5 linked regions of the Homo sapiens genome follow. The protein of the gene in region 1 purifies or fractionates together with the protein of each later gene. This does not show direct contact. Each region holds a gene or a part of one and is shown in the gene's direction. Other genes may lie near its edges.

Region 1 (4,641 bases):
AAACCTCATTTAAGTGAGAAAATACCTAAATGGTAACTTGTGTAGTATGTAGATGTAAAATGTGCTGGTGATGGAGTTCTCTCTTAGAATTAGCCCACCAGCGTTGGTGACGGACTTTTTACTGACCCATCAATATATTTACCTTCTCTCCAGCCCCACTCTCCCTTTATCACCTAACCCCCAATGAAAAACACATGTCTATGGGTCTCGGGGATTAGGGTTCCAGTCTCACTGACAGCCCTGGAGGTCAAATCTCAGATTGTAAAATGGAACCTATAGTGTTTGACTTACTTGCCCAGTGTTTCTACCAACTGAAAAAAATCAGTCACAAACATCTGGGAAGAGTAACGTTGTTAATACCTTAGTGAACAAAATCTGGGAGTGAGAAGATTCACTAGCAGAGAATAGTGGCTCAAAATCAACAGTTATCAACAAGAGTATTTGTGGTTATCATTACACATAATCTTCAGTTGTTGAAATGATACTTATATCAAATATGATCACTTTGAGCACTGCAATTTAGATGTTATTGTAATTATTTTCCAATAAATTGCTAAAGGATATTTGATCTCTCAGCTAAGGAATAAGCTTTTTCTAATTTTTATATAGTAGTTAAAGTGGAGATCTTGGGGTTCTAATCTTGAGGGAGATCTTGTGATGGTTGCTGTAAGAAATAGGTATTTCATATTTTATTTTAAGGCTTTTCAAGTATTTAATGATAAAGATGTCTGTGTGATGAGGATGAATCTCCTACTTAAAAAGTAATTTAAAAAAGCAAAAATAGTTTAATATTTAGAGGCCCCTCAAATAAATGCTTGAGTTTTAAAAGTTGTAGGAGACTTTAAATTTTTGAACAAAACATACAAATATATAGATATCTCTTTAATATTTGGGCAGGTTTTTTTGCTGTTTTTGGAGGGGGTGGAGAAGGGAAGGAGAATATGTTTTAGATAAGGAATATTTGAAGATTCCTGTTAAATCATTTTCAGAATAACAAATAATCTTTCCAAATCAAAGTAGTGTTGGTGACAATAGAAAATAGCCACAAAACAGCCTTACGTTTTTCAGCTGTGAGTATACAGCATTTGTGGAATTTATTTCTTAAAAAGATCAGCTACTTCTCCTTTCAAAATGGTAATTTTAAAAAATCAATATAATGAAAATTTATTGGTATTTATAAGCAATCCCTAAGAATATTGAAAATTAAGCTGATCTTCCTCTTTATGCCAGCATTCTGCCTTGTGTTTCCACAGTCTTTTCTCCCAATCTACCAGTATACTAGTCATTTTGAAATTTTGATAGAAAATATCTTTTGATAGAAGGTATTTATTGTTAGTGTATGTATTAAAATTTTGAGGTCAGTGAATCAAACAGTCATTCATTGTTTAGGAAAGATTTGTGGCCAGAATAAATGTTGGTCTGGGTAAAGTGTAGGAAAGAGGTGTGGTCAGGAAACAGTTACCTTACCCTGTTATCTGTTGCTTTGCTTTATTCTGTTAAATATTAGGATGTATTTATTTTAGGCATGTTTTCTTGAGATATTCTGCAGTTTGCACAATTCCAGAAGCTTTTCAGCTGTAACCACAAGACTATGTAAATTTTTTTTTTAGGGTCCAACCGAAGTGAGTTACAATCTTTGGTTTTTAATACCTAACAGCTGTTTTTAATGTGTCGGAGATCAAAAACACTAACCGGAAGACAGCCTCTCTTCTTCACCCCTAACCACACTTCTGCCTTCTTGCTCTTTAACTCTGTCCTTAGCAGGGCTGAGTGTTTGTGTCACTAACATCCACAGTGATAGATTTTCATCTAGGGTGTCAGGAGCATGGTGACCATTTGTGTTTGGGCTTAGGATGGGAGCATCCCCTTGGCATCCTGCTTCTTGAATTTCCATTACAAACAATTGCTTGTTTACTGCATCTGCTTCCCAAAAGTGTTAGGACTGGAAAAACACCTGGGGTGGGGGAGGGACCTGACCACTCCTTCCCTAAACAGTCTTCTGTTTGTATCTAACTGCAGACAATCCAGAGGATACCAGCTATGGCCAACTGGCATGCAGAGAAATGTTTCTGCTGGAATCTAATTATAAAAAGTGCATATGCTTTTGCTTATTTTTTAGACAAATGCTACTGTGTGTATCCTGGAACAGATTTTACCTATGACCAATATACAGTATTACCTGTTCAGGAGCACCACTTTCACCTACTCAGCTTTTTTTCTTCTCAAGGGGAATTTTAATTGGCAAATTACATCCTTCTAGAACTGGAATCCTTAGGGGTGTGAATGTGTCTATACCAGAAATCTTATGAATGGGTCTCTCACAGAATTTTAAATAAGAATTCTTAGTTCAGATAAATTGGGTCTAAGAAGAAAGCACCTATCATGACATATTTGGTGTCAGCGTGAGTTCTTAGGGCATAGTAAACTTTGGCTTGAGTTGGTCTTCTTCACAGAGAGTGAAGAGAAGATGCAGAAGCCTGTTAAATATTTTAGAGCCAGGACCCTGGAGAGTTTATTAAAAGCATACTCCCAAACCTTTCGTTCTCTGAACTTTATTTATGAAAATCCCTGTAGGCCAATGGTAAAGTATTAAAAGAAAAAAATAGTTCTTTACATCCCTAGTTTGGCTCTGGCAGTTGTGTGCCTGAACACCGTGTGAATGGTGAGCTTGGCCAGCTTTAATGTAGTGAAAGTTCCCACTGGCCTAATGCACTGTGGTTATTCATCTTAGGCGTCAATCTTCCATTTGTCCCGCATGCAACCCAAATGTTTAACACCTTAGAAAAGAAACATCTCATTTCTCTTCAGATGCTTGGGGAGGGAAAAGCAACACAGTGCAGGAAGCTGCAGCAAACGTTGCAGCTCAGTCACATCAAACCACAATAACACCTGGTCAGTGTAGCGCTGCAAACTTCATTGTTTTTGGTTCTTTGTGATCTTTCTAAGAGTCAATTTTTAGGTGGGAAAGGAAAGATATGGGTGTTCTCATTTCAGCTATCTTTTAAAATGTTTATTTTTTTAAAGTAGAAATTGCTATGAAAATGTTCCATGAGTTCTTTTCTAATTACCTTGTATAACTTAGTTCTGTTGTGACTTTTACCTTAAGGGAATCAACACTTTGGTTTCTATTAAACAGAATTATACCTATTATAACTTTGTCTTACCTACCCTGCATATTTGTACTTGCTTATAAACAGCTAAAATCTGATTTTGTCATTGTTCACATCTGGAATTAAGGAACTAAGTTGGACTTGTCTAATCAGTAAGCTTCTGAATGTACCACTGTACGTGACATTGTTGGATACCTTTGAAAATAATCACATAAATAATATTCAAGGATAGATGGAGACTAAGGCTTATATCTCATGCAAGATTTTTAAGGTAGAGTATCTTTTCACTTTATTGCAAGAAGCTATTGAATTTGACTTAACCTATAAATAATTTTCACTTTTCTATTTTAAGTTGTGCACTTTTTGAAGCTAAACACATTGAGTTTTCCCCTTCAAGTGGAGAATAAGTTTTAGAAAGTGTATTATTCTAACTCAAATGTATATATAGATGTCAGGAGAATGTGTGGGAAAATTCCTCAGAGCCCCCAAAGTTTCCTGTTTGATCCCTCCTTCATGGCATTGCTACAATTTGGGACAGGATCATAGTCAGAATAATTGGAAGCGCTTGCCATTCCCCCATCAAATACCTTATGGCCAGTTTGCTTATTTAAGTGTGCCAGGAAGCCATACTACATGTAACCCTTGCAGAGCTAATATTGCATTTACATGCCTGGTTCTTACTCAGATAGTTTTTTTGAAATGACCCTAGTAGTTTCTTCTTCATTGATAAAGACATGAGAACAACCCAAAAGATAGTCTTAAAAAAAAAAGACCACACACTAAAAAAAAGACCATTGAGCCAATCCGCAAAAATCTTGCTTTTGAAGTATTTTTTCCACTCCCATACAGGTCTTAGATTTGCTCTCATCAACCTCATTATTTTGATCGAGTCTTCCCTGTGGTCCGAGACCCTTATGTGATTTAACAGAGCAGAGGTAGGGTCTCACAAATGGGACTCTCTGGACTTGAATTTGTAGACTCACAAGCACTTGCTATAATATCAATTTTGTAGCGGATGAGTTTTTTTTTTTTAATGTTCTTTAGACAGAACCATTTGGGTTTATGTGATTGAATTTTTTTTTGAGCAATCAAAACACTTCATTTTTGACTCCTTTTGTTCCTCATTTATGTATCATAGACATGACTGGAATTTTATAAAGCTGATTTCCTTTTGATTTTGGTAAAAGACTTGGAATTTAAAGAGAAAACATGCCAGCACTGTCTGTAGCAAGCAGAAAAACATATATGTTTTATTCCCAGGTAAAAGTAGAGCTCAGCATTATGTAGGTGCTGCTGTCCTGGGACTAAAGGTTGCGCGCTCTCTCTCTCTCTCTCTTTTTTTAAGGGAATGTTCATTTAAAACTTGTCCTCTTTGAAGCTGTTGCTTAAGTGTTTGTGCTGAGCTGAGCCAATCTGTAGGAAGCTAATACTGTAGTAATCAAGACACTTAGTACTCTTCTGTGCTATCCTTACATGTCCTTACTTATTTAGAAAAGGCAGCCATTGGATTTTATTCAGATAATTTAAAAAT
Region 2 (4,641 bases), on another chromosome or scaffold:
GTATTGTGGCACTATTCACAATAGCAAAGACCTGGAACCAACCCAAATGTCCAACAATGATAGACTGGATTAAGAAAATGTGGCACATATACACCATGGAATACTATGCAGCCATAAAGAAGCATGAGTTCATGTCCTTTATAGGGACATGGATGAAGCTGGAAACCATCATTCTGAGCAAACTATCGCAAGGACAAAAAACCAAACACCACATGTTCTCCCTCATAGGTGGGAATTGAACAATAAGAACACTTGGACACAGGGTGGGGAACATCACACACCAAGGCCTGTTGTGGAGTTGGGGGAGGGGGGAGGGATAGCATTAGGAGATATATCTAATGTAAATGACGAGTTAATGGGTGCAGCACACCAACGTGGCATATGTATACTTATGTAACAAACCTGCACATTGTGCACATGTACCCTAGAACTTAAAGTATAATAAAAAAAAATTAGTGCAGGAGCAGCAAGCAGTTCCCATGCTACTCTAGATCTGAGGAGTAGCTTTGGGTGCATTCCTGAAAGTGCAGGCTAGAATCTGTTTATTGATCAATTTAGTACTGACACAAGCCTGTAATATGCTGTAATAAACTTTCTGTTTAAAAAAAAAAAGGTTGACCATGTGTTTATAATTGTTAAAGCTGGGTGATGGATACATGAGTGTTTAGTATATTATCATTTCTAGTATTGAATATGTTTAAAATTTTGAAATTTTCCATAATGGTTAAAAATTATAACCTATGCAGATTTTATTGTACATAAGAATAATCTGGGAGAGTTATTTAAAAAGCTGATTTCTGGACCTCCACCCCAGAAAAGTCCAGTTGAGTTGGACAGAGGTAAGGCCCAGAAATCCTTGTTTGTAATCAGCATCCAATATTGAATAAAATTGCTTTAGGGGGTGGAAGCCATTGAATATTGAGTATGTGAATGACAGGAGCAAATTTGTCCCTCCGTATTTGAACACGCTGACTCCAGTGGATAATGAAGTGGAAAGGAGTGGGATAAGATGCAGTTGTAGTAATCCAGGAAAGGGCCATGGATGAACAGTGTGGTAGACTAAAGATAAGCCCGGGAGACAGATAAAAGAAACACACAGGAAGGCCAGGCGTAGTGGCTCACACCTGTAATCCCAGCACTTTGGGAGGCTGAGACGGGCGGATCACGAGGTCAGGAGATCAAGACCATCCTGGCCAACACGGTGAAACCCCGTCTCTACTAAAAATTTAAAAAATTGCCAGGCACAGTGGCTCACGCCTGTAATCCCAGCACTTTGGGAGGCCGAGGCGGGCGGATCACGAAGTCAGGAGATCGAGACCACGGTGAAACCCCATCTCTACTAAATATACAAAAAAATTAGCCAGGCATGGTGGTGGGCACCTGTAGTCCCAGCTACTCGGGAGGCTGAGGCAGGAGAATTGCCTGAACTCAGGAGGTGGAGCTTGCAGTGAGCCCAAATCGCACCACTGCACTCCAGTCTGGGCGAAAGAGTGAGACTCCATCTACAAAAAAAAAAAAAAAAAAAAAATACAAAAAGTACAAAAAATTAGACCGGGCGAGGTGGCGGGTGCCTGTAGTCCCGGCTACTCGGGAGGCTGAGGCAGGAGAATGGCGTGAACTTGGGAGGCAGAGCTTGCAGTGAGCCGAGATCGCGCCACTGCTCCAGCCTGGGGGACAGAACGAGACTCTATCTCAAAAAAAAAAAAGAAAAAAAAACAAAAAACACACGGGAGATGGAATTGGTTAAATCACGTGACTACTGGAAGGTGAGAGATAAAAGCACAATAAATATTTCCAAATTTCTGATTATGCTACTGGATAGATGGTGAAGCTGTTCTTTCAGTGAGGAAAGGAACATAGGAAAGGAATTGTGTTTGGCTGTTTTTGTAAGACATGAGTGTGATGTGTGGGTGGCTGTAGTATATAAAATAAGTAGGATGAAGCTATGCAGTTGTGTATTGAGCTACTGGATGAAGAGAATGGAGAGAGGCTATTGAACAGGAAGAATATTAAGAGATAGGGATTACCTCCAAATTCCTAACACTGCTTTAACCCTAGAGCCTTCAAATCTCTTTTCTTGGATTTCCCCATCTGTGAAAACGGAGGTAGAAACAGCCATGGTAGCATAAAATAATCAGCTATATCAGTGGCAGCCTTAAGATTGGAAAACCAGGAAAGGACATTCTTCTTTTCCCTTTCTGCAGAACTGGTCTTCAGGGTCTCCTGTTTCTACTCTCTCATTTTTACTGCACCCTTTTCACTCTCTCCCTTCCCGTCGTTCCAGGGTGGAGAGTTCTGAGGAGCCTGTATATGAGAGCCTTGAAGAGTTTCACGTCTTTGTCCTTGCTCATGTGCTTAGGAGGCCCATAGTCGTCGTGGCAGACACCATGCTGAGGGACTCCGGAGGGGAAGGTGAGTCAGCCAGTCAGTCCTCACTCCATGCTGAGCACCCCCTTTTGCAAAGCCTTAGGCTAAGCATTGGAAGGAAGGCAGGAAAGGGGATATATAGACCCTTGGGGAAAAAGCAAGTTATCAATTAGAATAGTGCAAAATTCTCAAGAGATTCTGAGTAAAGCAGTTGGGATTAGTTGACAGGGCTTCTTAGGAAAGAATTATTAAACATGTTGGAATGAAAGCAGGGAGGGACTCAGTTGGCAGAGTGGGATGTAGGGATTGTCCACTAGGCAGAAACACAGCCTTCATAATAATCTTCATGGCTTCCTGCAGCATTTGCCCCTATTCCCTTTGGAGGAATCTATCTGCCTTTGGAGGTCCCAGCCAGCCAGTGTCACCGCTCCCCTCTGGTGCTCGCCTATGATCAGGCCCACTTTTCTGCACTCGTGTCCATGGAGCAGAAGGAGAATACCAAGGAACAAGGTGCTGAATGACATGTCTTTTGGTCTGCATTATTTTCACTTGAAAAAATTGAATGAGATCTAATGTAGGAGGAAAGAATTAAGTGACATGCAAGCCCAGACAGCACATGTTGATACTGTTTTATTAAGCCAGAAGTTACGCCAGAGTTTTCAAATTAAAAAAAAAAGGGTTGGGAGAAAAGCAAGACCTATATACCCTCTTCTGGAGTAAAGGCTTATGATTAAGGTGTAAGAGCTTCTAAATGATGCTTTTCTAATTTGTCTTAAATTATGACTGAATTCTCTGAATATACATTAACTGGAAAGAACATCATGAGAGTTAGTTGACTGACTGGTGGGGACTCAGGGAGATTTGTGGCCTAAAACATATGCTGCGTGGTAGCGGGAAAACTAGCCAATTAGTTTTAATACCGGGGTAATTCACGTGTAAGAATTGAGAAGTGACTACAATTAAAGACCTTAGTATGATTTTAGTGAAATAAGTCTGTGTTCAGTTACCTTTCTCTCTTAAGGAGATTCCTTGATGATATGTTTCTTCCTCTCCAGCTGTGATCCCACTTACAGATTCAGAGTATAAGCTGCTGCCCTTGCACTTTGCTGTGGACCCTGGAAAGGGCTGGGAGTGGGGCAAAGATGATAGTGACAATGTCCGATTGGCCAGGTAAGCCAGGCCTAGTCTTTTCATCTATTTTGTGCTGGGATTTCTTCCACATGTGGCATCCATCTCCCAGGGATTTTTCCTCAGCTCAGGCAAGACAGTCACAAGCTAAGATGAGTTTTGGGAAGATGGGGAGGTAGAGGAGAGGTTGGGCACCAGGACTCTTTCATGGTGCAGCTGCTTTTTCTCCCTGTGAAAGAGATGGGAATCCTAGCATCTCAACTTGTTCTTTTCTTACAATAGGAAAAGTGTTCATACACTGATTCATCTCTAAAACATTGATCAGAAAATCAGGATAATCAGGCCGGGCATGGTGGCTTATGCCTGTAATTCCAGCACTTTGGGAGGCTGAGGTGGGTGGATCACGAGGTCAGGAGTTCGAGACAAGCCTGGCCAATATGGTGAAACCTCGTCTCTACTAAAAATACAAAAATTAGCCAGGCGTGGTGGTGCGTGCCTGTAATCCCAACTACTAGGGAGGCTGAGGCAGGAGAATCGCTTGAACCCAGGAGGCAGGGGTTGCAGTGAGCCGACATCGTGCCACTGCACTACAGCCTAGGCAACAGAGTGAGAGTCTGTCTCAAAAAAAAAAAAAGAAAGAAAGAAAATCAGGATAATCAAATCACATGTCTTAGCCCAAGTGAGAGGAGTTTTAAAGAGTTGATCAAGGCTGGGTGCGGTGGCTTATGCCTGTAATCCCAGCATGTTGGGAGAAACCACCATCAGAGTGAACAGGCAACCGAGGCAGGCAGATCACCTGAGGTCGGGAGTTTGAGACCAGCCTGGCCAACATGGAGAAACCACATCTCTACTAAAAATACAAAATTAGCCAGGCGTGGTGGTGCATGTCTATAATCCCATCTACTCGGGAGGCTGAGGCAGGAGAATAACTTGAATCCAGGAGGCGGAGGTTGCAGTGAGCTGAGATGGTACCATTACACTCCAGTATGGGCAACAAGAGTGAAACTCCATCCAAAAAATAAATAAATAAATACGTGATAAAAATAGTTTGCTCTGAGTTTTTGCCTTTCTGGAATTTAATAGCAAGAAAAATATGTTCCCTACCCTCTCAGCCCCCACTCTACCTCCCTGTGGCTTGTTAAGCCT
Region 3 (4,614 bases), on another chromosome or scaffold:
ACATGGGGCGTGGGCTTCCACCCCACTTGGGAGTTCCCAGAGACTTTGGTTCTCACCACTGTTCTTCCCTTGACAGCTAAAGCTGTTGATGGATATGTGAAACCACAGATCAAGCAAGTGGTCCCTGAGTAAGTGTCCAGGTGGCTGTGGCTCTCCTTCTGCCTCTTTCCTCCTCCCCCAGACCCTGCCTCCCATCCTGATCCTGGGCCCAGCTTTCCGCTCCCCCAGGGAACCTGTCTCAGCCCTGGGGAGGGAGTCCCCTCTCCTGTAGCTGGAGCCCCAGGGCCGAGTGGGGCACTTTGTCCGTCTACACCCCGAGAAAGACAAACATGCCCCTCGGTCCCCTCCCCAAGTCAGCTGCCCCGGCCTCCCTGGTGGCTGAAGCTCTGTTCTCTTCCTTCTGCAGGTTTGTGAATGCATCTGCAGATGCTGGGGGCAGCAGCGCCACGTACATGGACCAGGCCCCCTCCCCAGCTGTGTGCCCCCAGGCTCCCTATAACATGTACCCACAGAAGTAGGTGGTGTTCTCATGGGGTCCGCAGGGGAAGAACTGGGGACTTGGCCCCAGGCTGGACTCCTGGAGGGCTGGCGGGCAAAGGATCCAGAGCTCTGGTTAGGCCCAAGTCCAGGAGGAGTGAGATCAGCCAGGAAAACAGAGCATTTTGAAGCTAGACATAGCAGGGTCAAGTCCTCACTCTAGTACTAACTGTGTGATCTTGGGAAAATGATTGAGCCTCTCTGATGCTCAAGTTTCCTTATGTGTAAAACGGAGGCAAGAATGCTTGCCTCATGAGAATGGGATGAGCATTAAACTGAGACAGTGTGGGTGAAGCATTTCCACAGGGAGGGGCTTGGAAGGGCTTGATACAGGGTAGCTATGAATGGGGTGGTTGTTCTTGAGTCTGGTGGGAACAAGGTAGATAATTAATTCCCTTCCTCACTGTGGATAGCCAGGGCTGGATGTCTGGGAGGTACCACCTTCCAGTGGGACCACTGAAGATCCCAGGTTCCAATCCGGACTCCACCACCTCCCAGCCAGGTGGCCCAGAGCAAGCTTCCTGATATGGCCTTGGTTTTCTCGTCTATAAAACGGGGTCAATACCCACTCTCCAGTTGGCTGTAAAAATTGGAGTCATGTGCTCAATAGGCTCAGCTGTTCTAGGTGCTCAGTGAAAAGATTCAGCTGTTCTAAGTGCTCAGTGAACGGGGCGGTGCCTACCATTGCAGCTGAGCATCATTGCAGGTGGGCAGAGCCCACTGTGTCAGCCACCTGGTTTTAAGATGAGGACACGGAGAGGGGAAATGAATTCCCTAAGATTATTCAGTGAGTTAGCAAGAGATGCGAATAGAGTGGGGGTCTGCAGAAGCCAGTGGGCTGACTGCTACCCAGCTTGGGGTGGGGTGGGGGCATCCAGCCAGAACTGGTCCTGTTCTCATGAGACGGGTTTGAGTGGAGAGCAGGCTGGAGGCTGTCCCCAGGGAGCTTGAGGCTGTGAGACATGCCAGCTCCCTCTGACATCCCCCTGTCTTTACCAGCCCTGACCATGTACTCGATCAGGATGGAGAATTCGACCTGGATGAGACCATGGATGTGGCCAGGCACGTGGAGGAACTCTTACGCCGACCAATGGACAGTCTTGACTCCCGCCTCTCGCCCCCTGCCGGTCTTTTCACCTCTGCCAGAGGCTCCCTCTCATGAATGTTTGAATCCCACGCTTCTCTTTGGAAACAATATGCAATGTGAAGCGGTCGTGTTGTGAGTTTAGTAAGGCTGTGTACACTGACACCTTTGCAGGCATGCATGTGCTTGTGTGTGTGTGTGTGTGTGTGTCCTTGTGCATGAGCTACGCCTGCCTCCCCTGTGCAGTCCTGGGATGTGGCTGCAGCAGCGGTGGCCTCTTTTCAGATCATGGCATCCAAGAGTGCGCCGAGTCTGTCTCTGTCATGGTAGAGACCGAGCCTCTGTCACTGCAGGCACTCAATGCAGCCAGACCTATTCCTCCTGGGCCCCTCATCTGCTCAGCAGCTATTTGAATGAGATGATTCAGAAGGGGAGGGGAGACAGGTAACGTCTGTAAGCTGAAGTTTCACTCCGGAGTGAGAAGCTTTGCCCTCCTAAGAGAGAGAGACAGAGAGACAGAGAGAGAGAAAGAGAGAGTGTGTGGGTCTATGTAAATGCATCTGTCCTCATGTGTTGATGTAACCGATTCATCTCTCAGAAGGGAGGCTGGGGTTCATTTTCGAGTAGTATTTTATACTTTAGTGAACGTGGACTCCAGACTCTCTGTGAACCCTATGAGAGCGCGTCTGGGCCCGGCCATGTCCTTAGCACAGGGGGGCCGCCGGTTTGAGTGAGGGTTTCTGAGCTGCTCTGAATTAGTCCTTGCTTGGCTGCTTGGCCTTGGGCTTCATTCAAGTCTATGATGCTGTTGCCCACGTTTCCCGGGATATATATTCTCTCCCCTCCGTTGGGCCCCAGCCTTCTTTGCTTGCCTCTCTGTTTGTAACCTTGTCGACAAAGAGGTAGAAAAGATTGGGTCTAGGATATGGTGGGTGGACAGGGGCCCCGGGACTTGGAGGGTTGGTCCTCTTGCCTCCTGGAAAAAACAAAAACAAAAAACTGCAGTGAAAGACAAGCTGCAAATCAGCCATGTGCTGCGTGCCTGTGGAATCTGGAGTGAGGGGTAAAAGCTGATCTGGTTTGACTCCGCTGGAGGTGGGGCCTGGAGCAGGCCTTGCGCTGTTGCGTAACTGGCTGTGTTCTGGTGAGGCCTTGCTCCCAACCCCACACGCTCCTCCCTCTGAGGCTGTAGGACTCGCAGTCAGGGGCAGCTGACCATGGAAGATTGAGAGCCCAAGGTTTAAACTTCTCTGAAGGGAGGTGGGGATGAGAAGAGGGGTTTTTTTGTACTTTGTACAAAGACCACACATTTGTGTAAACAGTGTTTTGGAATAAAATATTTTTTTCATAAATTTGCTGCTATGGCTCCTGGTTGGGGCGTTGGTGGCCTCCCTGGGTGATGGGAACCCCTGGAGCTGGTTGTTCTGTTCCTTCCCGCGTGCATGCCTGATGCTGTCATTTTTAGTCTTAAATTTTAACTCTGCCCGCTTTGCTGTGGTTTTCAGGGTGCTGGCCACCCCTGGAATACTGTCAATGCTTCTCAGAAGGGTAAGGAGCCAGTTTAGGGGGCACAGATTCCTTAAAAAGCAGGGGACTCGAGGTTTGGGGAAATGATGGAGATGGGCGCGGGTGGGCAGAACTCTGACCCAGGCTTCTCCTTAGCAGCTGCTGCTCCCAGCAGCCTCGAAGCTGGCGGCTGAGGGCCCGGCGCCAAGATGCTTCTCAACCCTCGGGGCCAGGGGCAGTCCCAGAGCCGCAACAACCGTCCCATCCTCCTCCTTCCCAGAGACCAGCAGGTGGCACCACGCGGCTGCGCTGTTTTCAGCTGGCTGCCGGCGACTGTGCGAGGCGGAGGTGCAGCAAGCGGGACCGGCTCGCCCCGGCTGGACCCCCGCACTGCCGGCTGCAGCCAGTCCCTGCTGTCGCTGGGGCCCTTGGGCTCAGGGACGCGCGCTCCCTGGGCGGGGCTGGGAGCCAGGTTTGCGGGCAGGTTCCTTCTGAGCTCAGAGCTCAAGCGAGGGAGAGGGGCGGCGCGTGGGCCCCAAGAGGGAGGTGCAGGGGGCCCAGAGCAGGGGGAAGGCGGGGGTGGGAGAAGAGAGGAGGGGAGGGGACGGGCAGGTGCCACCGCCCCAGGGGGCTAATCTGATCCATCTCTGCGAGGGAAGGTGCTCGCTCGTAGCTCCCAGGCGCGGTCTCCAGGGCGCTGGGGCACGTGTAGGGGTGGGGAGAAGCCCTGTGGGCGCCCGCGTAGCTGAGGTTGGGGCGCCTTTCCCTGCATTATCACCGCTGGCTGCCGGGGGCCCTGCAGCCACCACCGGGTGTCTGCGTGTTGTCCCCGCTGGGTGAACTGAAGGGAAAGTGATAAAGGAGCCAACTGTGGAAGGGGAGGCCTTGGTGCGGTGGGAGTATCTACCCCCCACCCCGCTTAGGTGGCTTATCTGACCCCAGACAGGACGAGGCCGCTCTGGGGGGTAGGAGGGGGCCGGGGAGGGAGGCCTCCACTCTGACACCTTTCTGCCGTTGGACTATTGACCTCCTGCTCCTCCAGGCACCCCTTACCTCCGGGCTGGTGGCTAACATAAGGGGGTTGGCGGGGGGGATTAAGGCAACCACCTCCTCTCAAGACCCTTTCCGGCCCTTATCCCAGGCCCCACCTGTGTGTGAGGCCCCCTCAGAACTTATGCAGGGGAAAAGGAAGCCTCCACCAGCCAAACAGAGCTGCCATGCTATCAGACGGTTCCTATATAACGTTTATTTCTGGAAGTTAAAGTAGATACAGCAATATACCAAAAAAAAAAAAAAAAAAAAAAGACAAAAAACCTCACAATAATATAAATTTTTACACTATGAAGTACACATTGGAATTTGAATGCAGTGGCCAGGACAGCAGCTTATAAACCACCTTATAGGTAGGTAAGCAACCCACGGGATTCCCTCGGCTGGGCTGGGGATGGGGAGGGGGCAGTGGACAGGAAGCGGGCAGGGCCTGAGGA
Region 4 (4,641 bases), on another chromosome or scaffold:
TATTTTCTAATTTCATCCTTTTTGTAATCCTTTCTCTGTTTTTCTGTAGATTGATCCATGTTCCTCAGTTTCATACTAGGCTGTTCCCGAATTAGAAAAATGAAGTAGTTTTCTAGGGATGGTGTTTCTTAGTCATTCACAAAGTGTGTCTTAGTCATTCACAAAGTAACTTTGTCATGTATTGGCATCCACCTGATTGAAAAGTCATTCCTTGGTGCTAGATGGATTTGGCTTGTCTCAGCTGTGCCATTTGCCAAATTCCCTTCAGCCTCCCTTTCCTGCCCCCGGCCCCCCATGGCTTTCCCTCAAAAGGAAGACGCAGAACATTTCAGGTACCTTGCTGCTTTGTGGCCCTGTTACAACCAGGAATTGTTCTAGTTTTGAACTCCGTTTTGCTCCTTCCTTCTTTTTAAATGTTTTTTTTCTCCTTTATTTTGGAGATTTTACTAGAATAGTTCTCTGGAAGTGCTCATGTTTTTGTAATTGTAGGCAAGGTCAGACAGTGTTCGTACTTGTTCTAAATTGCTATTATATGAACACAAAACCATTTGAGAGAAGCATTTAAGAATTAGAAGGTTTATAGTTAATACTTAATGAAAATTTTCAGCTTAGCAGACATGACAAAATAGATGGGTAAAAATAAGTAGCTGACAAATAGGGCCTTGTGGATTTGAGTTAAGGTGGCACCGTGAAGTGCAGAGGGAGTGAAGGGGAAAAGCTGTTTTATTGTCCACGTGGAAGCTTCTGCTTGAAAATTGCTAACTCTAATCAAGGAAACACTGGTAGGGAGAGTGGAGTATTTTAGAAAGACTTTCCCAGAATGCATCTTGGTGAACATTCAATGAGGAACAATTTCAATGGCATCCTCTCTGCAACTAAGAATCTGTAGTAATGGAATTTGCTTTCTTTAAGGTGGTATATGAACTGAGTTTCTTAATTGAATTTTATAACTATCCATTGTCTTTTCTTTTAGACTTCAACTGTGAGGACATGTCGTTCAGATTTGGCCAACATCTCATCAAGCCCTCTGTAGTGTTTCTCAAAACAGAACTGTCCTTCGCTCTTGTGAATAGGAAACCTGTGGTACCAGGACGTATCCTTTCTTTTTTTTTTTGGAGAGGGAAAATAAAAGTCTTCTGAGCCTAACCAGCCAAATGAATATAAATACAAGATTGGCCTCCAGTCTGTCCAAAAAGGTAAATAAAGAATCCATCTCCCTCCCACTTCGGAGACACCAGGTAAGATGTTACTCATATTTATTCTGAATCCAGTTGGTGGCACCAGTAATATGCTTGATCAATGTTGCAGAACTTCTGAGGAGAGTTGCTTAGCAACCGTGGCTTTGGAGGTGAATTTTTGCTTGACCTTTTCACTACCATAGCTGAGTAAATAAATAGGTGCTTCTAAAATGAGCCCAGTGAATATCACGGGCACTTGGTTTTCAGCTTATCTGTTGTGAATTTTAATAGTAGATTGAGTGGTGCCTTTGTGATGTGGAAGTAAGATATGTGAGGATTTGAGACTGACTTTGTTGCTTTACCTCTTGGAGATCATTCAAGTTGTGCGTTTTAATTAAATTTATATTATAGATATACTTACAAATTTTTTTTAAAAAATATTAGGACCTGAAATAGCATTTTCTCTTGGGAAAAATACCAGCTTGCAGATCATTGACCAGTGTCATTGGTGGAGTTGTTTTATTTCCCTCTGACCACTGAGTTGTAGTCTTTCCTCCTATAGACTTCAATAGGAGCTTTATTCTTTTGCAGTGGGAATAACAAGTATTGGTGAAATGCTTGGGAAGTTATCTTTATGTTGTTAAAAGTTTCACTCCTGATTGTGTGCATATGAATTTTGTACGGACTCTTCAGGATGTTTTTCTCTTTCCTCCTTCACTTAGTTTGCCATGCAGAAGGCAACAGAATAAAATTTGATATTTTCAGATAATAAGTATTTTCCACGCTGAGACATGATTTTGCTTTGAAATGAATTTCTTAGTAATTCTGAATGTACAAATATGCCAAGAGGTTTTTCAGAGTAAGCTACATTTTTTTTCCAGTGAAAATGTGGAAAGTGCCTGAGAACTTTATGAACAAGCTTCTTTTCTAGCCACGTAACTATTGTATGCTAAAAAAAAAAAAAATACAAATAAGAAAAACATGTACCAAAAGATAATTGTGATTGTATTATAGACTCCCAAATTTCTGGAATCCAAATTCTAGTCAAATAAATTGTATTAATTTAGAAAACTAATAAGCAATACTCTAGTAAATATGTAAGCTTTTCTTAATATTTAAAACTCTTCTTTTAAATGAGTCTAAATAATATTAGAAAACTATTTTCTTCTGTTTATTAAAAAAAAACACTAGAATGATTTAGAAAAGCCCTAGAAAACAGCACTTTTAATTTTAATACCAATTGTGTATTGAAATCTTTTAAAAGACCTGAATTTCTTGAAGTAACATTTTATTTTGCTATAAGTTTGTAGTGGGCTTTTTCCTTTGGGGTTTTTTAAAGCAAAATGTCTGTAAATTCAGGTGTTAAAAGAATATGGTTTAAATGCCATCTCTCTCTAGGTGCCAGCTTTAACTGACTTTTAGAAAAGAAATAAAGGGACCTGGGATGAAAATATGAATTTAGACAAGATCCATTTGTCTAAATTCACTCTCATTCCTATGAAAATTAGAGGTCACAGAGATGTACCACTTTTTTTTGTTGTTGTTCCTTTTGAGGCAGAGTCTCACTCTGTAGCCCAGGCTAAGTTGCAGTGGCACAATCTTGGCTCAGTACAATCTCTGCCTCCCGGGTTCAACCGATTCTTGTGCCACAGCCTCCCAAGTAGCTGGGACCACAGGCAGGCACTACCACACTGAGCTAATTTTTGTATTTTTAGTAGAGACGGGGTTTTGCCATGTTGGCCACTTTTTAAAATGGTTAATAATGGAATGAACTCTGCTTTGTAGTTTTTTTACTCATATCTTGAGAGTAATTTGATATTTCAGACTTTTTAACAAACTCAGAAAAAGTGATGTCTAAAACCAGGGCATACCTGAGTTTGAACTCAAGAAAAGTAGAAATGTCTATGTCTAGGAAAATATCTGTAGTGAATAGTGAGCAAGTAGTGAATGACAACTCGTTTCTTTGTAGATGGCACTGGTGTCACCATTTGGGAAATGAACCCTGCTCAGTTACTTTATATTTGAGTAAATACCAAGGGCTCGGAGAATATTTTATTAAAATTAACACACTTCAGTTTGTTTGGAAGGTAGCAAGAAGGATCCAACCCTCTCTGATTATAAGAACAATGAGAACCAGAGCTTTTTTAAAATCATTATACTCTATAAGTCTAATTAACAGCTGCAGTATTTAAAACAGTCTCAGGGCCAGTAGACAGTGTATTCAGACAATGCTTTTTATGTGATGATTTTGTAACTTTTTATTTTACTTTACCTTTATAAACTCTGCCATGTTACAACTGGGAGACGCATCTTTTTTTTTTTTTTTTTTTTTTTTGAGACGGAGTCTCGCTCTGTCGCCCAGGCCGGACTGCGGACTGCAGTGGCGCAATCTCGGCTCACTGCAAGCTCCGCTTCCCGGGTTCACGCCATTCTCCTGCCTCAGCCTCCCGAGTAGCTGGGACTACAGGCGCCCGCCACCGCGCCCGGCTAATTTTTTTTTTTTGTATTTTTAGTAGAGACGGGGTTTCACCTTGTTAGCCAGGATGGTCTCGATCTCCTGACCTCATGATCCACCCGCCTCGGCCTCCCAAAGTGCTGGGATTACAGGCGTGAGCCACCGCGCCCGGCCTGGGAGACGCATCTTAATAAGGTACTCCTTTGCTTGCAGAAAGCTCTAGTCTTTTGTCCTGAGACTTGAGAATGGAAGATGTGGATAGCTCTGTCCACTAACATTTCATAAATAAATGGTGAGATGTCTGGAGTGGGCTTTTATCTTCCTCCAGTGTTCTCTCCTGCCTGCCCTAGTCTAGCCCTTAGGTGTGGTTCATCTAGATTTATGCTGTCTCCCTGCCTCTGGGCTTTTCCAATGTAGCCTATAACTTTATCTGAACCACAGCCCTGACCATATCATTCTTCTCTTCCCTTGTTAATAAACCAATAAGGAATGTCTGTTTTTTGAGGATAAAGTCCAAATTCCTTAGAATAGTTTTTAAGGACCTTCATTGTACTGGCTCAGTCTCCCTTCTTTCCGGCTGTTCCCTGAATATGTGTTGTACTATCCCTTTACTATACTTTCTCCTGCCCCTCACCTCAACTGGAGATTCCTCCCCATGCTTTTCATTTCATCTGAAGTGCTTTGATAACTGTCCCCTGCTCCTAGGGAAGAAAACAAAACAAAACTCTGTCCTCTGTTTGTGACACTCACTTCCTTATTCTCATGTTGATTCATTCAGTACTTTATTACTGAGCTCATACTCTGTTCCAGGTACCAAGACCAAACACACAGCCCAGTCTGCCTCATATCCAAAGTACGTGCATCCCTATTTCTGTCTGCACTGAGTCTTTGCTTCCTATGGACGAGACCTGCTCTTGCACATCTCTTTTTTCTTAGCATCCAAATGTACTGTGTTCACTGAATCTAAAGTGAAGCTGGAAACATCAGGAGTATATGCATTGTTCCAGT
Region 5 (4,641 bases), on another chromosome or scaffold:
ACCTCCCAGGCTCAAGTGATCCTTCCACCTCAGCCTTCCAAGTAGCTGGGACTACAGGTGCGCACCACCATGCCTGGCTAAATTTTTAAATTTTTGTAGAGATGGAGTCTCACTGTGTTGCCCAGGCTGGTCTCAAACTCCTGGGCTCATGTGATCCAACTGCCTTGGCCTCTGAAAGTGCTGGGATTAGAGGCATGAGCGACTGCACCCGGCCCCAGCCTCTCTGTTGTTGTTTTTGTTGTTTTTGTTTTTGTCCAGAACCCAAAGGGAAAAAAACCTCAAGGGGGCAGCCCTTCCCTTGAGCAGCAGATGCTGGCTCAGTGGCCAGGCTCTATGCTGAGGACACATTCGGAAACGGCCTGATACTTGCCGTCCGAAGCAGAATTTCAACTTGAGAGAGGCATGTCCCCTTAAGTGGGTGAGGGGCATTCCAGAATCTTCCAGGCTGGGTGGGGTGGGTACGTGGAATTTGAAGACGCACATTATTACAATTTTTCTATTTGGGAAATGGGAAAAGCACTTCGTGGAAATTACCAAACATGAAGTTTGACAGTTCTTGCTTGGGGGAAATACATGTAAGATGTAGCGATTCGGACCTTTCTGGTGATCAAAAGCAGACCCGTGTTACACATGGTTGGGGAGCACCGTCTGGCGGGAGAGGCCCCGGTGAACACACAATCCTAGTGTGCGGTGGTGAGGCAGCGGTGGAGGGAGGGAGGGCAGGCGGGGGTCCTAGAAGGGGAGCCAGGAGGGTCTTTGTGGGCAGCTACGGAAAGTGTCACAGTGGAAGCGACATTTGATAAGGCCTTGAGAGATGGGTAGGGATTTCTCTGTGGGATAAGGAGGTGCACGGCTATTGCAGGCAGAGGGGCCAGCCTGTGCTCAGAGCAGGCCCACAGAAAAGCCTAGCATGTGGGCACAGGAAGGAGGTGGGAGAAAGGGGTTGACAGCTTGCCAGGTGCTTCTGGGAAGGGCTCTGGTTGAATGACCCAGGGATTTAAATGAACTTGATACCTGTTTTCTAGTTGTCTGATTCAGCATGAGTTCCTGATGTTCAATAGGGATACATTTGGGGTCAGGAATTCTCCCCCAGTTGAGAAAACTGGACCAGATGCTTGGAGTCAGGCCTGGGCCTGGCCCCTGGTTCAGTGCTGGCACCCCACTGCCCTGCGGGAGAGTCACGTTTCACACCCTGGTGTGTTTCAGGGCCCTGCCGAGCCTGGATATCGTAGTGTGGTCGGAGCTGCCCCCCGGGGCGGGCTTGGGCTCCAGCGCCGCCTACTCGGTGTGTCTGGCAGCAGCCCTCCTGACTGTGTGCGAGGAGATCCCAAACCCGCTGAAGGACGGGGATTGCGTCAACAGGTAACCATGGTCCTTACCTGGCCAGTGTCCCTCCCGCACGGCAGGACAGGGACGTGGCTTCTCTCACTGAGACCTCACCACCTCCCTGTGAGGTGAGAGGTGTCATAGTGGCCATTTTAACATGAGGAAGCTGAGCCCCGAGAGGTCAAATGGCTGGCCCAGGGCCACACAGCTAGTGCTGGCAGAGTGGGATTTGAACTCAGAGTCTGAGCTTTTCTCTCCTGCTCTCCACCACCTCTGCTCACCCCCATCTTGGCTCTGTTGGTTTCAAGCGCCCATGGTATGGTAGAAAGAGCTGGAGTCCAGATCTAGAGGGCAGCAGGTTAGATGAACCCTCCCACCTCTGCATTGACTCAGGCTAGGACAGTGTTCTCCTCTGTATGGTAATGACAGTGCCCTAGGGGTGATTGTCCAGTTTTACCACATGGTTATGAAAGAAACTAAGAGTTTGCTGAGAAATCCACATTAGGGGGTGTGCCCATTAGACTAGGGCATCTCTCCTCCTACGGGGCCGTCTCCACGGAGGGCGTGTCACCTCTCTGCGTTCCTATTGACCACGTGAGTCAGTGAGGCCTGTCCAGACAGGCTTGACCACAGACCATTTCTATCATTAGGAGAATGTTCCTTGAGAAACCACCCAGTGCGCAGAGGTTACGCAGTTTGTCCCAGGACCAGGAGTTGTGGATGAGGCCCCCAAATGCAGAGCTCTGTCCTCTTCCTGGGCTTGTTTTTGTTTTGTTTTGTTTTGTTTTCTGAGCTTGGTTTTTTTGTTTGTTTGTTTGTTTGTTTGTTTGTTTGTTTTTTGAGATGGAGTCTCGCTCTGTCACCCAGGCTGGAGTGCAGTGGTGTGATCTTGGCTCACTGCAACCTCTGCCTCCAGGTTCAAGTGATTTTCCACGGGCCAAAGGACTGGCCCTGTCTTTCAAAAGGTGGAGGGTGACTGTGTGTGTGCACTTGCATGTGTGTGTGTTCTTATGCTGCTTCTAACCATTTCTCCCACCTTCCCCTGAAGGCCAGTCATTCCTTCTCAGAACCCTTAGGGAGAGTAGACCTCCCACCCCACCCCACCCCACCACACCCCACCCATCATGTGTTTCTGAGTCGGAAAGGACTGGAGCCCAGTCTCCTTTGAAGACTCAAATCTGAGCCCCCTAAAAAACAAACTGTGTAGAGCAGGAGGAAGACTCACATTTGTTGAGAGGGCCAGGCCCTGGGCTAGGTCAGCTGCCTGAGTTACCTTCCCCCGCCTCCATCACTCACTTCATCCCAGGCACGCTGCCACCTGTTGGTCCCTGGGAAGGGCCAGCCAGCTCTGGTGTGGTTCCAGTGCTGCACAAGTGGTGTGTCTGGAATGCACCCCACACACACACCTTGCCCAGCTGGCTCCCCTTGTCCTTCAGGCACCACCACCCCGCCCCAGCCCCCAGCAATTCAGCCCATCGTACTCTTACAGAAACACCTGGTTTGTTTTTGTTTTTGTTTTTTTAACTATATTATCATTTATTAAATGTAATTAGGTAGCTCTGGATCCTTGGTCTGTTTTTTTTTTCTTTTATTATTATTATACTTTAAGTTTTAGGGTACATGTGCACAATGTGCAGGTTAGTTACATATGTATACATGTGCCATGCTGGTGTGCTGCACCCATTAGCTCATCATTTAGCATTAGGTATATCTCCTAATGCTATCCCTCCCCTCTCCCCCCATCCCACCACAGTCCCCAGAGTGTGATGTTCCCCTTCCTGTGTCCATGTGTTCTCATTGTTCAATTCCCACCTATGAGTGAGAATATGCGGTGTTTGGTTTTTTGTTCTTGCGATAGTTTACTGAGAATGATGATTTCCAATTTCATCCATGTCCCTACAAAGGACATGAACTCATCATTTTTTATGGCTGCATAGTGTTCCATGGTGTATATGTGCCACATTTTCTTAATCCAGTCTATCATTGTTGGACATTTGGGTGGGTTCCAAGTCTTTGCTATTGTGAATAGTGCTGCAATAAACACACGTGTGCATGTGTCTTTATAGCAGCATGATTTATAGTCCTTTGGGTATATACCCAGTAATGGGATGGCTGGGTCAAATGGTATTTCTAGTTCTACATCCCTGAGGAATCGCCACACTGACTTCCACAATGGTTGAACTAGTTTACAGTCCCACCAACAGTGTAAAAGTGTTCCTATTTCTCCACATCCTCTCCAGCACCTGTTGAGAAACACCTGCTTTGAAGTCACATATTGCAGTGTCATGGATTTGTTTGTATTTGAATACTGATCGCTTTCTGACCTTCACTTTCTCCATTAGACTCTAAGCTCCAAGAAGTCAGGGACCTTGTCTGTTTTGCTCCCTACTAGGAGCTTAGTCACAGGCACATAGCAGTTGCTCAATAAATGCTGAATGAATAAGTGAGTGTATCTTGTTGGCACCATTAAGTTAGTAGCTAAGAGCTTGGGCTCCAAGTCAGCAGATGTGGTCCTGACCCAGCAGTGAGTAGCACTGTGATCTCCAGGATGCTGTTTGACCCATCCAAGCCTCAGTTTCCGTTTCTGTAAGAAACAGGATAATTATTATACCTTCCCTGTAGGGCACAATTGGGAGGATTATGAACCATTTCTCAATGGTCCATTTGAGAAAGCATTTAGCACAATGTTTGGCACATGCTAATCAATAGTATGTTAACTGATGTTAACTCATTATTAATCATAGTCTCACAGCTACCATGTGAGTTGCCAAGTCCGTAAAAATCCTTATTTGGCAGATGAAGAAAGAGACTCAGAGCAGGTAATTGACTTGCTCAGGGCTCACAGCAAGTAAGTGATTGAACCAGGCCCCCAGGCGCTGTGACCCCAGACGGCCTATTTTGAGGGGAGCACATCCTATCTCCTGGGCATTACACAAAGCACTTGTGTATTTTTTCCATCTCAATATCCTCAGTGAGATAGACACTATTATCCCTGTTTTATGGATGAGAAAACAGGGTTTAAGGTGAAGCAGTTGCTCACAGATGCCCAGTGAGTCAGTGATAGGATGGGCTCCAAAAAGGGCTCACTGGCTGGGCACGGTGGCTCACGCCTGTAATCCCAGCACTTTGGGAGGCTGAGGTAGGCAGATCGCTTCAGGTCAGGAGTTCGAGATCAGCCTGGCCAACACAGCAAAAACCCATCTCTACTAAAAATACAAACATTAGCCAGGCGTGGTGGCAGGCGCCTGTAATCCCAGCTACTCGGGAGGCTGAGGTAGGAGAATCGCTTGAACCCAGGAGGCAGAGGTTGCAGTG

Evidence for each region.
Region 2: the proteins of LEF1 (region 1) and OTUD7B purify together in Homo sapiens (affinity purification with western blotting; one study listed by BioGRID). This does not show direct contact.
Region 3: the proteins of LEF1 (region 1) and STAT5A purify together in Homo sapiens (affinity purification with western blotting, with the first as the bait; one study listed by BioGRID). This does not show direct contact.
Region 4: the proteins of LEF1 (region 1) and FHIT purify together in Homo sapiens (affinity purification with western blotting; one study listed by BioGRID and IntAct). This does not show direct contact.
Region 5: the proteins of LEF1 (region 1) and MVK purify together in Homo sapiens (affinity purification with mass spectrometry; one large-scale study listed by BioGRID and IntAct). This does not show direct contact.

The regions. Positions count from the first base shown.
Region 1 is NC_000004.12:108,158,224-108,162,864, reverse strand, and holds part of LEF1 (lymphoid enhancer-binding factor 1), read left to right. Parts: intron 1-4,641. UniProt on the Homo sapiens protein: Transcription factor that binds DNA in a sequence-specific manner. Participates in the Wnt signaling pathway. Activates transcription of target genes in the presence of CTNNB1 and EP300.
Region 2 is NC_000001.11:149,947,865-149,952,505, reverse strand, and holds part of OTUD7B (OTU domain-containing protein 7B), read left to right. Parts: intron 1-2,284; coding exon 2,285-2,412; intron 2,413-2,727; coding exon 2,728-2,877; intron 2,878-3,422; coding exon 3,423-3,537; intron 3,538-4,641. UniProt on the Homo sapiens protein: Negative regulator of the non-canonical NF-kappa-B pathway that acts by mediating deubiquitination of TRAF3, an inhibitor of the NF-kappa-B pathway, thereby acting as a negative regulator of B-cell responses.
Region 3 is NC_000017.11:42,308,971-42,313,584, forward strand, and holds the end of STAT5A (signal transducer and activator of transcription 5A), read left to right. Parts: intron 1-76; coding exon 77-128; intron 129-406; coding exon 407-514; intron 515-1,536; coding exon 1,537-1,699; coding exon of another isoform or gene 1,700-1,760; 3' UTR 1,761-2,973; downstream 2,974-4,614. UniProt on the Homo sapiens protein: Carries out a dual function: signal transduction and activation of transcription. Mediates cellular responses to the cytokine KITLG/SCF and other growth factors. Mediates cellular responses to ERBB4.
Region 4 is NC_000003.12:60,533,312-60,537,952, reverse strand, and holds part of FHIT (bis(5'-adenosyl)-triphosphatase), read left to right. Parts: intron 1-973; 5' UTR 974-990; coding exon 991-1,093; intron 1,094-4,641. UniProt on the Homo sapiens protein: Possesses dinucleoside triphosphate hydrolase activity. Cleaves P(1)-P(3)-bis(5'-adenosyl) triphosphate (Ap3A) to yield AMP and ADP. Can also hydrolyze P(1)-P(4)-bis(5'-adenosyl) tetraphosphate (Ap4A), but has extremely low activity with ATP.
Region 5 is NC_000012.12:109,580,189-109,584,829, forward strand, and holds part of MVK (mevalonate kinase), read left to right. Parts: intron 1-1,206; coding exon 1,207-1,362; intron 1,363-4,641. UniProt on the Homo sapiens protein: Catalyzes the phosphorylation of mevalonate to mevalonate 5-phosphate, a key step in isoprenoid and cholesterol biosynthesis.